2 linked regions of the Homo sapiens genome follow. The protein of the gene in region 1 purifies or fractionates together with the protein of each later gene. This does not show direct contact. Each region holds a gene or a part of one and is shown in the gene's direction. Other genes may lie near its edges.

Region 1 (7,285 bases):
CAGGCAGCAGTCTCTACGTCTGGTCCCAGGCTGCCTGAGAAAGAGCATGTGGGAGGCAAACCTTGCGCCCTGGCATGGTTGTTAATGTTTATATTTACCCTAGCTTGTGTGGGGTAGGAGGTTTAGGGATCAAATTCCACTCTGTGTTTAGACATTTTTTTCTTTCTTTTTTTTTTTGAGACAGTTTCACTCTGTCACCCAGGCTGGAATGCCGTGGCACAATCTCAGCTCACTGCAACCTCACCTCCCAGGTTCAAGCAATGTTCCTGCCTCAGCCTCCGGAGTAGCTGGGATTAGAGGCATGCACCACCATGCCTGGCTAATTTTTGTATTTTTAGTAGAGACCTCAAATGATCTGCCCGCCTCGCCTCCCAAAGTGTTGGGATTACAGGTGTGAGTCACTGTGCCCAGCCATGTGTTTAGACTTTTAACTAATCTCTTTTTTAGTTTCAAGCCTTATCGTCCGCCTCTGTAGACCACTCCTGTGCCTGTTTCCTGATCCTTCCAAGGGCCATTGTATTCCCTGTCTGCTGCCCCTCTTTTGGATTCTTCTGCACATTTTTTTGTTCATGCATTCATTCATTTATTGTTTGATTAATGACAGGGTCTTGCTTTGTCTCCCAGGCTGGTGTGCAGTGGTGCGACCACGGCTCACGGCAGCCTCAGCCACCCAGATGTAAGCGATCTGGTTCCCACCTCAGCCTCCCGAGTAGTAAGTAGCTGGGACCACAGGCGGTGCCCAGGTTTTTTTTTTTTTTTTTTTTTTTTTCGTTGGTAGAGACAGGGTCTCACTGTTGCCAGGACTGCTCTGAAACTCCTGGTTTCAAGTGATCCCCTTGCCTCCTCCCACTTAGGCCTTCCAAATGCTGGGATTACAAGGCATGAGTCACCTCCAGGCCTTTTTGTACTTTTAAAACTCTGCATCAGTGTATAAACAATGTTATTAAAGTTTATATGACTTCAGTTACACTACATGGATCCTTTTTCACTCACGGTTGTGAGATTTATTTCTGTTGCTACATCCAGTTCTAGTCCATTTGTGTTAAGTGCCCAGTGTGTTTATCTACTGAGGGACAGTTATGTTATTTCGTGTTCACTATTATCCCATGCTACAATAAATATCCTGTGTCTCCCAGATACTTAGAAGAGTTTCTGCAGGGCACATGTGGGAGAGTTTGTTTCTGGGTCATGAGGTGTGTTCATCTTCCATCTTGCTAGATGCTGGCAAAGGGTTCTCCAGTGTGGTTGCATCAATTTACTCGCCCAGCAGTGTGCAGAGTTCCTGTTCCTCACATTTACCAACACTAGATAGTACCAGACTTTGATTTTTGCCAATCTGATGGGTTTGAAGTGGTACCCCTGTTTTAATTTCATGACCAGAAATTCAAATTTAATCTTTGCTGTAGGACAACAGTAACCCACTTATGCCTAGTGTTCCATTATTAGAACGCTAAGCATGTGGGAGTTTTTACATCATACTGCTCAAGGTCATCGCCAAGGTCTGATGTTTTTACTCGTGCAAAAATTTAAAAAATTGCAACCTCTGGCATAAATGGGTTGAGTGACACTTTTCCTGTTTTTATTGTTGGTCAGTGATGGCATATTTGCTGGGTTTTTTTGTTTTTTTTTTGAAACGGAGTCTCACTGTGTCGCCAGGCTGGAGTGCAGTGGTGTAATCTCGGCTCACTGTAACCTCCGCCTCCCGGGTTCAAGTGATTCTCCTGCCTCAGCCCCCTGAGTAGCTGGGATTACAGGCGTGTGCCACCACGCCCAGCTAATTTTTGTATTTTTAGTAGAGACGGGATGTCACTATGTTTGTCGGGCTGGTGTTGAACTCCTGAGCTCATGATCTGCCTGTCTTGGCTTCCCTAAGTGCTGAGATTACAGGCCTGAGCCACCGCTAGCCTATTTATTTTTTATTTTAAATTTTAATTTTCTATATAGAGACGAGGTCACTATCCTGCCCAGGCTGGTCTTAATCTCCTGGGTTCAGTCAATCTTCCCACCTTGGCCTCCCGAAGTGTCAGAATTATAGATGTGAGCCACTGTGCTCAGCCCAGAACTGATGTTTTCTAAATGCTGGGTGCTGAGAAGGATGTGTGGCTGGCAGTCTTGACTGTGTTATCTGTCTTTACCAGGCCAGTAACTTCTTTGGTCTGGTCATCAAGATAATCTAGCATCACCAGCAAGCATGCATGGAGAAGGATGGGCCCAATGTGGCCAAGATGGTAACGGGACCAGTAGAGAGCCCTGTAGAAGACATCTAGATATTCTGCCCTAAGAGCCCGGAGGGCCGGGCTGTCTCATGACCCTCTGACGTGCTGACCTGGACTCTGGCAGAATGTGCACACACACAGTCACACAGCTTCCTGGCTTGCGCAAGTCCCAGGAGGGCGGTGCCAGCCACAGGCTTTTCCCATTCGAGGGTTGGAAGCGTATCATCAAACCACATCAGAGTGCTGGGGGCCACCTGCCACCCATTCCCAACCCACTCAGCCTTCCTGGTGTTTGGGACATGCTTTGCTTTGGCAGTCAAGACAGCAGAACAAATCAACTTTTAAGGCCTTGTCACTGATAGTACAATTTCCATTATTTTTCATCCAAATTAGGATACTTCTGAAAATAGAAATGATGACTCTGGGATGCAAACGTTGGCTGTCCTATGTATAAGGAGATGGCTTTTCACGCTCCCAGTGACTGAGGAAGTTTCTCCCAGATGGCGCTGCTCTGAGCCTGGTGCAGGGTAGGCACTTTCAAAAGAGTGTCTCCTTGTATCTTCCATCAGCCTTGCGAGATGGGTATCTGTTCCCAGGGCCCCAAGGGAGGAAAACAGGACCTAGCTGGATCCAAGAGCTAGGCCTTTCTTTTTTTTTTTTTTTTTGAGATGGAGTCTGACTCTGTCGCCCAGGCTGGAGTGCAGTGGCGTGATCTCGGCTCACTGCAAACTCCGCCTCCCGGGTTCACGCCATTCTCCTGCCTCAGCCTCCCGAGTAGCTGGGACTACAGGCGCCTGCCACCATGCCTGGCTATTTTTTTGTATTTTTAGTAGAAACGGGGTTTCACCGTGTTATCCAGGATGGTCTCGATCTCCTGACCTCGTGATTCGCCCACCTCAGCCTCCCAAAGTACTGGGATTACAGGCGTGAGCCAGCATGCCCGGCCCAGAGCTAGGCCTTTCTGTGGCTGGCCTTCGCGTCAGCCTCAACTACCCTGGTGTAATCTCGCCTGCGGTTGAATTAGGGAACCGCCGTGTTCTGCAAGCTGGAGAGGCAGAACACTAATGAGCAGAACACTAATCTCATTGCAATCTCAAAGGATCTCTAAAAGCTTTTATAAAGCAGGCCCAAGGTCCTTTGGTATCCGATGCAGACGTGGTGAATGCATTGGCTCTGTCAGCATCTGAGCAAGTCAGTAACAGAAATGGGGAGTAAAAGCTTTCAGAACTTTCCAGAATATTGACTAAATTGTCTTGTTTACAACCAACAACGACAACAAAAAATAACTGCTGAGGGCCTTCGTAGTGTCTGCTGTTTCAAGTGTACAGTAGTCATTTTGTCTGCAGGATGTGGGGTTGCTGTGGCTGACCTTGTACAATATTCCACTCATAGGTGTCTTCAGGCCTATGGAGAGCAGCTTGCGTGGGCTGGGCCTGCAGTACCTGGTTTGCATAGATGATTGGCAGGTGGGCAGCACGGGGAAGGACCTGTGAGTGGCCAACCTGGTTCAGGTGAGGGAGGTGGAGTGGGGCTTCTCTGCTTCCCCTGGTTCCCTGGAAGCCTCCAAGGCTGGTGAGCATCACTGCTGCCTCTGCACACCTGTGTGCTGGGTGGGTTTTCTGACAGGTTTTCAGTTGCTTCGGGGCTACAGCTGCAGGGAGCCTGCTCCATGGGACAGATGGGCCTCTGGTGCCCGTTCATCAGGGGACTGATGAGACCGAGGCCTGAGAGCCCTTTGGATTTTGTTTTTGTCCTTAATTTAATCATAAGCCAAGAATCTACTAAACACAGTTCCATTAGGGGCAAAGACGTAACACATCAGAGGCCACAGCAAGGCTGTGATTCATACTCAAAAAGGAAAGGTCTCTGGGTCACAACAGAGCATAGTTGAGGTCAGCACACTCCCACCCAGTGCAGGGCTGCTCCAGCATTGAGGTGTGTCTGGCAGGTTGAAGTAGGGGAAGATGAAACTCGCCGAAGTCTTGTTTTGTGGTTGCACTTAAGTGGTCAAAACTTCAGGAGCAACTGCCGTTATTAGCGGTGAGTGCCAAGACTAGTTTTTATAGAAGAGAAAGAAACAAAGTACTCTGGGAAGGTCTTACTGAGCCTTCACAGTCTCCCCACCTTTCCACTGTTCCCGTGCTCTTAGCCGCTCTGCTGGCCTATAAGGCACAGTCTTCATTTGTGGCTTCTGGCAAAATGTAAGCACTTGACTTTTGTTTTTGTTTTGTTTTGTTTTGTTTTTTTGAGACGGAGTTTCCCTCTTGTTGCCCAAGGTGGAGTGCAATGGTGCGATCTCAGCCCACTGCAGCCTCCACCTCCTGGGTTCAAGCAATTGTCCTGCTTCAGCCTCCCGAGTAGTTGGGATTATAGGTGCACAACCACCACGCCTGGCTAATTTTTTGTATTTTTAGTAGAAATGGGATTTCACCATGTTAGCCAGGCTGGTCTCGAACTCCTGACCTCAGGTGATCCACCTCCTTGGCCTCCCAAAGTGCTGGGATTACAGGTGTGTGCCACTGTGCCCGGCCAACTTTCAATTCTTTAGAGCTGACTATGAGAGGAGCCAGCAGTATAGCCACAGCACCAACGAATGAGGAAGAGCAAAATACTGCATGACAGCTTTGCTAAGAATTCTTTCACTTTTTTTGTCTATCAGCCAGGAGCTAGCAACTTGGCTTATTTGGAAATTTTAAGTGTACATATCCTGTCTCCTTAAATCCTTTACAGATTTAAAGTGCAGTCTACCTGAGGGCTCTGTGACCATGTAAGAAAGCTTTTTCTTTCTTTTTTTTTCTCTGAGACAGAGTGTTGCTCTGTCGCCCAGGCTGGAGTGCAGTGGTGTGATCTTGGCTCACTGCAACCTCTGCCTCCTGGGTTCAAGCAATTTTCCTGCCTCAGCTTCCTGAGTAGCTGGGACTACAGGCAGCACCACCATGCCCGGCTGAGTTTTGTATTTTTAGTAGAGACAGGGTTTCACCATGTTGGCCAGGCTGGTCTTGAACTCCTGACCTCGTGATCCGCCTGCCTCAGCCTCCCAAAGTGCTGGGATTACATGCGTGAGCCATTGTGTCCGGCCTTTTTTTTTTTTTTTTTTTTTTTTTGAGACAGAGTCTCGCTCTGTTGCCCAGGCTGGAGTGCAGTGGTGTGACCTCAGCTTACTGCAACCTCCGCTTCCTGGATTCAAGTGATTCTCCTGCCTCAGCCTCCCAAGTAGGTGGGATTACAGGCACCCACCACCGTGCCTGGCTAATTTTTGTATTTTTAGTAGAGACAGGAGTTTCACCTTGTTTAGTAGAGACAGGCTGGTCTCGAACTCCTGACCTCAGGTGATCCGCCTGCCTTGACCTCCCAAAGCGCTGGGATTACAGGCATGAGCCACTGTGCCTGGCCAGAAAGCCTTCTTTATTGAGCTTGGTGGCAGCCCAAAACTGATTCTTTAAGGGTGTCAGGACTTAACACCTCCTGTGACTTAGCCGCACCTCCTCTCCTTTGACTTTCATTCCACCTCCTTCCAGGATCGCAAGGTCCCTATTTGTCCTGGAAACGGCTTCAAGGTAGTCTAGGGTGCCGTTTGCCGGGGGAGGAAGGTGCTCTGGTTGATAGAGTCGCCTGGCCGCACACTCTTTTTGGCACATAACAACGTTCTACAGAGCCGGGGTGGAGCGTGCTTTCTCATAAGTGCTCTGCAGGTTTGGAGAGAGAGGATATGAGGAGCACCCTTTTCTGTTTTTTTTAACCCAAAGATTAGCTTGGAAAAGGGGCAGAGGGGTGCACTGGAACTCAGGTCTGCCTAAGCAGCACAGCAGACCAAGGTCTAGAGATGACATCTGCTCGCAGCTGTTCTTCCACCAGCCCGCATCCTGGAAAGGGGTCTTGTGGCACACAAGAGTTCACATCCTTCCCTCGTGAAATAAGGACTTTGTGTTCATCATCTCTTGTAAGAAGCAGAGCAGAAAGCACAGAATTAAGAAATAAAAGGGAAGTGGGTGCCTATATAAAGGGAAGTGAAAATGGGTTGCTGTCCCATGCAAAGACCCTGGAAAGCTGTTAACAGCTCAGCTTGTCACTTTCACCATCTGCATTTGTCCAGAGTGATTGAGATTTGCGTTGTTGTGGAGAGAAAGGCGCCTGTTGCACAATGGAGTGAGATTGCCACTGCTGTCAGGACCTCTGTGTTTGGCTTGACACTTTTTGAGTTCTCAGCAGTCTCGGGACCCTCAAGAGTGGAAGCATTTTTGGATGTTAAATGCTGGGGTTAATTGAAGTTAAGAGCTTGTTTTACTGGGCATGGTGGCTCACACCTATAATCCCGACACTTTGGGAGGCCAAGGCGGGCAGATCACTTGAGTCCAGGAGTTTGAGACCAGCCTGGGCAACATAGCAAAACCCCATCTCTACAAAAAATACAAAGCTGGGCGTAGTGGTGTATGCCTGTAGTCCCAGCTCCTTAGGAGGCTGAGGGGAGCAGATCTCTTGAGCCCAGGAGGCAGAGTTTGCAGTGAGCCATGATCGTGCCACTGCACTCCAGCCTGGGCAACAGAGTGAGATCCTGTCTTAAAACAAACAAAAAAAACAAACTTGTTTTCATTTAGACTCTTCCTGGCGTTGGGGACCTATTGGAATAGGTTTAGTGTGAACTGAGAGCTAGAAGTGTTAGAGGAGAGAGGGAGGGAACAGAGCCCGCTGGAGCGAGTGCCCTTCCTACCTTATCACTGCATGCCAGGCATGTGCCGGCGCTTTGGTCCTCCTCATTTCATTCTTGACTGCCACCTGAGACACGATGGTTACTAGCTCCATTTTATAGGTGGTGAAACTGAGGCTTGGGGAAGGTCAGACCCCAAGGGTGCCATTTAGTCAGTGGCAGAGCCAGATCCAAATGCAGGTCTCCTGACTCCAAGTGCAGGGCTCATTTTATCGTCCGGTTGCAGCACGCTGGCGGCCCCTTGAGCCCCAACCTGGATACCATAGGGGAGGAGCAGAGAAGCCAGGAACACCACAGCCCTGGGCCAAGGTGCGGGGCTGAAAGAACTTCCCAGCGCTCAGCCTGGGACTAGTGGAATGGGCTG
Region 2 (4,294 bases), on another chromosome or scaffold:
CTGCGTTTTGAGATCTTCTTCAAGAGACGTCTGATGAACCTCATGCGGGATGTGGAGCGGGAGGGCCTGGACTGGGACCTCATGTGAGTGGGGGTCTGAGGATGGGGTGAAGCTGGGGCCTGGGGCAAGGCCAGGACTTAGAGGTGGGGGTGGGGGCAGGGTGGAGCTGGGACCTGGGGATGGGTCATGGCTTAGAGGCGGGGCTTGAAGGTGGGGTGGAACTGGAGCCTAGGTACATGGCCAGGGCTTAGAGGTGGGGCTGGGAGGCGGAGTGGAGCTGAATCCTACGGGCGTGGCCACAGCGCTGCAGCTGAGCCTAGAGCCTGTATGTCTGGGTGTGGTCAGGGTGGCAGGCGTGGCCAACCCTTGGAAGCGTAGCAGGAGGGCTCACGTGGTTCCTGGGCCTGAAGGCACTGTCAGGGCTGTAGCCTATAGGGAAGGGCGTTGGAAGGATCACCCAGAACTCAAGGGACCTGGCCGGAAGCCTGCAGGCTTGGTCAAGGCTTAGAGACTTGACTGAGGCCTGTGGAGGTGGATGTGGCTAAAATTTGACCGGGCAGCCTGTGGGCGTGGCTGAAGAGCATGGGGGTGTGGTCAGAGCTGGAGGTGTGGCCGAAGAGTGTGGGGGCGTGGCCAGGGCGCCTGGTCTTAGACAAGCCCCTGGATGGGAGTGCCACCAACATGTTTCCAGCACTGGAGCCGTCCTTCTCTTCTGTAAGTGGGCTGGTTTGTCCTCTCCCTTCCTCCATCTCTTTTTTCCCTTCCATGTGCAGTGCCCTAATCTGCATTCTGGGAACACTGCCCCATGTGAATAGTAACTGCACCCCTCCATTCCTGACTGCCCCCCCATCAGGGCACCTCGCCCACCTCCACCCCCACTGTCCTCTGAACTCAGAGCAGCTTCAGCCTCAGAGAACGTCTGCGTGATCCTGCTCTCCCCAGCTCCAGATCCTCCATGGCTCCCTCACGCCCTTTGGAAAAACTCACTCTTCTCCCCCATGACCGCCAGACCCCTGGGCTCCTGCATTCACTCCATCCAGTCACAGAGCTCTGCAAACATGCTGAGCCTGCTCCCATCCCAGGACCTGACGGGGTAACTAGATCCCTGGCTTTCTGGGCAAGCTCCCTCCGGAGGGCGGGAGGAGAGTGACAGGCCCGATCTTGCACCCCAGCTATGTGGGCCGGAAGCGGATGCAGGTGGAGCACCCCGAGAAGGCTGTGCCTCGCGTGAGGAACCTGGTGGAGGCCGACTATTCCTACTGGACCCTGGCCTACGTGATCTCCCTGCAAGGCGCCCGCAAACTGCTGGCTGCTGAGCCGCTCTCCAAGATGCTGCCTGTGGACGAGTTCCTGCCCGTCATGTTCGACAAACACCCAGTGTGAGAGGGGCAGGCGGCTGCTGGGCTGGGGTTTCACGGTGGGTCTGTCCTGGGAGAATGGGGATGTGAGACTCACGGCCTCCGAGAAGATGTCTCTTCTTTTGCCTACTTCTCCCTCCGTTTGCCCCCTCGCAGATCTGTCTCCATTTGTATCCCCTGCACACTTACGTTTTAATCTGTCCCCGCTGACTTCTTCACCCCCAATTTTTCCTCCAGCTGTCCCGTCCCCTGAAGCCATTGCTGCCCCTCACTCCCCTCCTCCTCCCCCCAGGTCCGAGTACAAGGCCCACTTCTCCCTCCGCAACCTGCATGCCTTCTCTGTGGAGCCGCTGCTCATCTACCCCACACACTACACAGGAGACGATGGCTATGTGAGTGACACCGAGACCTCAGTCGTATGGAACAATGAGCACGTCAAGACCGACTGGGACCGCGCCAAGTCCCAGAAGATGCGGGAGCAGCAGGCACTGAGCCGTGAGGCCAAGAACTCGGACGTGCTCCAGTCCCCACTGGACAGTGCTGCCCGGGATGAACTCTGAGGGGTAGCAGCCAGAAAGCCAAAGCAGCCATCGGTGGCCCAGGCTCCACGTGCTTACTGAGGACATCAGGTCCACCTCTGGACCCCTTGGCAGGCCACAGAGGGCTCTCGTGTGGGGTGGTGTCCAGCCAGCTCTTGCTAAGCAATCACGTGCACACAGGCAGCATTAATGGAGTGCCTACTGCATGCCAGCAACAGGGCTTGGCCCTGGGGAATTGGGAGGAACCAAGCCCTCTTCATCTGTTCATGTGCCCAGCATTTATTAAGCACCTGCTGTATGCAAGGTTCCCATGTTACGGCAGTGAATGAGGCATAATTGTTCCCTCCATCAGCGATTGATTCAGTCATCAAGCAGTTACTGATCAGATTAAGAATCAGGCACTAGTGATACACATTCATTTTTAAAATTCATTCAAGGATTTATTGAGTGCCTACTGTGTGTTGGGTGCCATTCCAGGCTCTGGGATTTTTTTTTTTTTTTTTTTAAGAGTAGAGTCTGTCTCTGTCACCCAGGCTGGAGTGCAGTGGTGTGACGGCTCACTGCAGCCTGCGCCTCCCAGCGTCCAGCAATTCTTGTTTCTCGGCCTCCCAAGTAGCTGGGACTATAGGTGCGTGCCATCACATCTGGCTAGTTTTTGTATTTTTAGTAGAGACGGGGTTTCACCATGTTGGCCAGGCTGGTCTCGAACTCCTGACCTCAAGTGATCTGCCCGCCTTGGCCACCCAAAGTGCTAGGGTTACAGGCATGAGCCACTGTGCCCAGCCCAGGCTCTGGGAATATTGAGATAAATAAGATGCTTCTATCCATTTATTCAAGCACATATTGGTCACCTACTGTGTGCCTGGCACTCATGTCACAAAGATAAGTTCCTGATTCGGTACACTTACTGAGCACCTGCTGTGTGCAGGGAGCTGAGCTATGGGATGGGAATGGGAGTAAACAAGGTACTTTTTACTTTTTTCTTTTTTTCCTCACTGCTAGACGGTGTGGGAACTTCTCACTCATTGGCTTCTTTCCCACACACCTGAAGAGCACTGACTGTGTGCCGGGCACTAGTGATACAAAAGAGTGTGACAGTTGTTCAGTCTGCATTTTCGATCATGGGCTACATGCCGAGTGCTGGGGCACAGAGATGAACAAGATCGGTTCCTTCACTTCTTCATGCCACAAGTGTTTATTGAGCACCTGTGTGCCAGGCCTCACAGACTCCCAGTTGGGTTGAAGAATGGTTGACTGAGTTTGATTCTTCCTGTACCCTCGGTCGTCTGAGCTGTGTGCAGACAACATCCCCCCACCACCCAAGAGGGAGGGTAGCTCTTCCGCCACCAGGGGCAAGCACAGGTCCTGGTGGCCCCACGCCACATGTTAGCCCCCCTGGAGGGGGCGCCAGTTGGAGACGGGGGCTGGGTGTCCCTGGCCCACTCCCGGTCCCCTGTGCTTTACCTCCTTGCCCTTGTGTCTCAGGTGTGGTCCCTGCCTGCTTGATGAAGTTGCTCTGTTCAAGCCTTTGGTGGGATCATGTGTTTGGGGGCTTTTAGGGGACCCAGCTGCACTGGGGCACTGCCCGTGGCCTGGGTAGGACATTTCCCAGCAAGGGCTGGAGGAGTTGCCGTGCCTTCAGCCTGAATCGAATGTCAGAACCAGCCAGCGGTGCTTCACCCTCTTGGGGATAACTTGCTTAGTTTTTTAATAAATGTTCCTGGTTGGTTTTCACAGCAGTTTGTGGGATTTTGCTCGGCACCAAAACACTGCCCACGTTCCCCACCCCTGGATGGCCGACAAGATTTGGGAGGAAACCAGGGCAGGTGCAGTAGGGAAGCTGCCCAGTGGGGCCTGGCATGGTGGCTCATGCCTGTAATCCCGGTGCTTTGGGAGGCTAAGGTGGGCGGATCACTTGAGGTCAGGAATTCAAGACCAGCCTGGCCAACATGGTGAAACCCCCTCTCTATTAAAAGTACAAAAATTAGCCTAGTGTAGTGGGGCGGGGTGGCGGGGGGGGGGTACCTGTAATCCTCGCTACTTGGGAGGCTGAGGCAGGAGAATCGCTTGAACCTGGGAGGTGGAGGTTGCAGTGACCCAAGATTGAGCCACTGCCCTCCAGCCTGGGCGGCAGAGCAAGACACAATCAAACCAAAAAAAAAAAAAAAAAGCTGGCCAGTGGAGCTACTGTGGGGTGAGGGTGTGGTAAGAGCCCTGTGTCCCCTCATGCCATAAAACTTCCCCCAAACAGGCGGGGGACCGACAGCTCTGTCTTGAGTCAACTTCAGGATCCTTCCACATGACTTCGAATAAAGAGGGGCTGTCGTGCTTTGAGTCCCCCTAAAACAGACCTCAACATGAGGATTAGGGCTGGGCATGGTGGTTCACGCCTGTAAT

The links.
Region 2: the proteins of CTSB (region 1) and COLGALT1 purify together in Homo sapiens (affinity purification with mass spectrometry; 2 studies listed by BioGRID, with this or other methods). This does not show direct contact.

The regions. Positions count from the first base shown.
Region 1 is NC_000008.11:11,857,803-11,865,087, reverse strand, and holds part of CTSB (cathepsin B isoform 1 preproprotein), read left to right. Parts: intron 1-604; exon of another isoform or gene 605-712; intron 713-2,609; exon of another isoform or gene 2,610-2,743; intron 2,744-3,608; exon of another isoform or gene 3,609-3,727; intron 3,728-7,147; exon of another isoform or gene 7,148-7,230; intron 7,231-7,285. UniProt on the Homo sapiens protein: Thiol protease which is believed to participate in intracellular degradation and turnover of proteins. Cleaves matrix extracellular phosphoglycoprotein MEPE. Involved in the solubilization of cross-linked TG/thyroglobulin in the thyroid follicle lumen.
Region 2 is NC_000019.10:17,579,527-17,583,820, forward strand, and holds the end of COLGALT1 (procollagen galactosyltransferase 1 precursor), read left to right. Parts: coding exon 1-83; intron 84-1,172; coding exon 1,173-1,379; intron 1,380-1,650; coding exon 1,651-1,918; 3' UTR 1,919-3,631; downstream 3,632-4,294. UniProt on the Homo sapiens protein: Beta-galactosyltransferase that transfers beta-galactose to hydroxylysine residues of type I collagen. By acting on collagen glycosylation, facilitates the formation of collagen triple helix. Also involved in the biosynthesis of collagen type IV.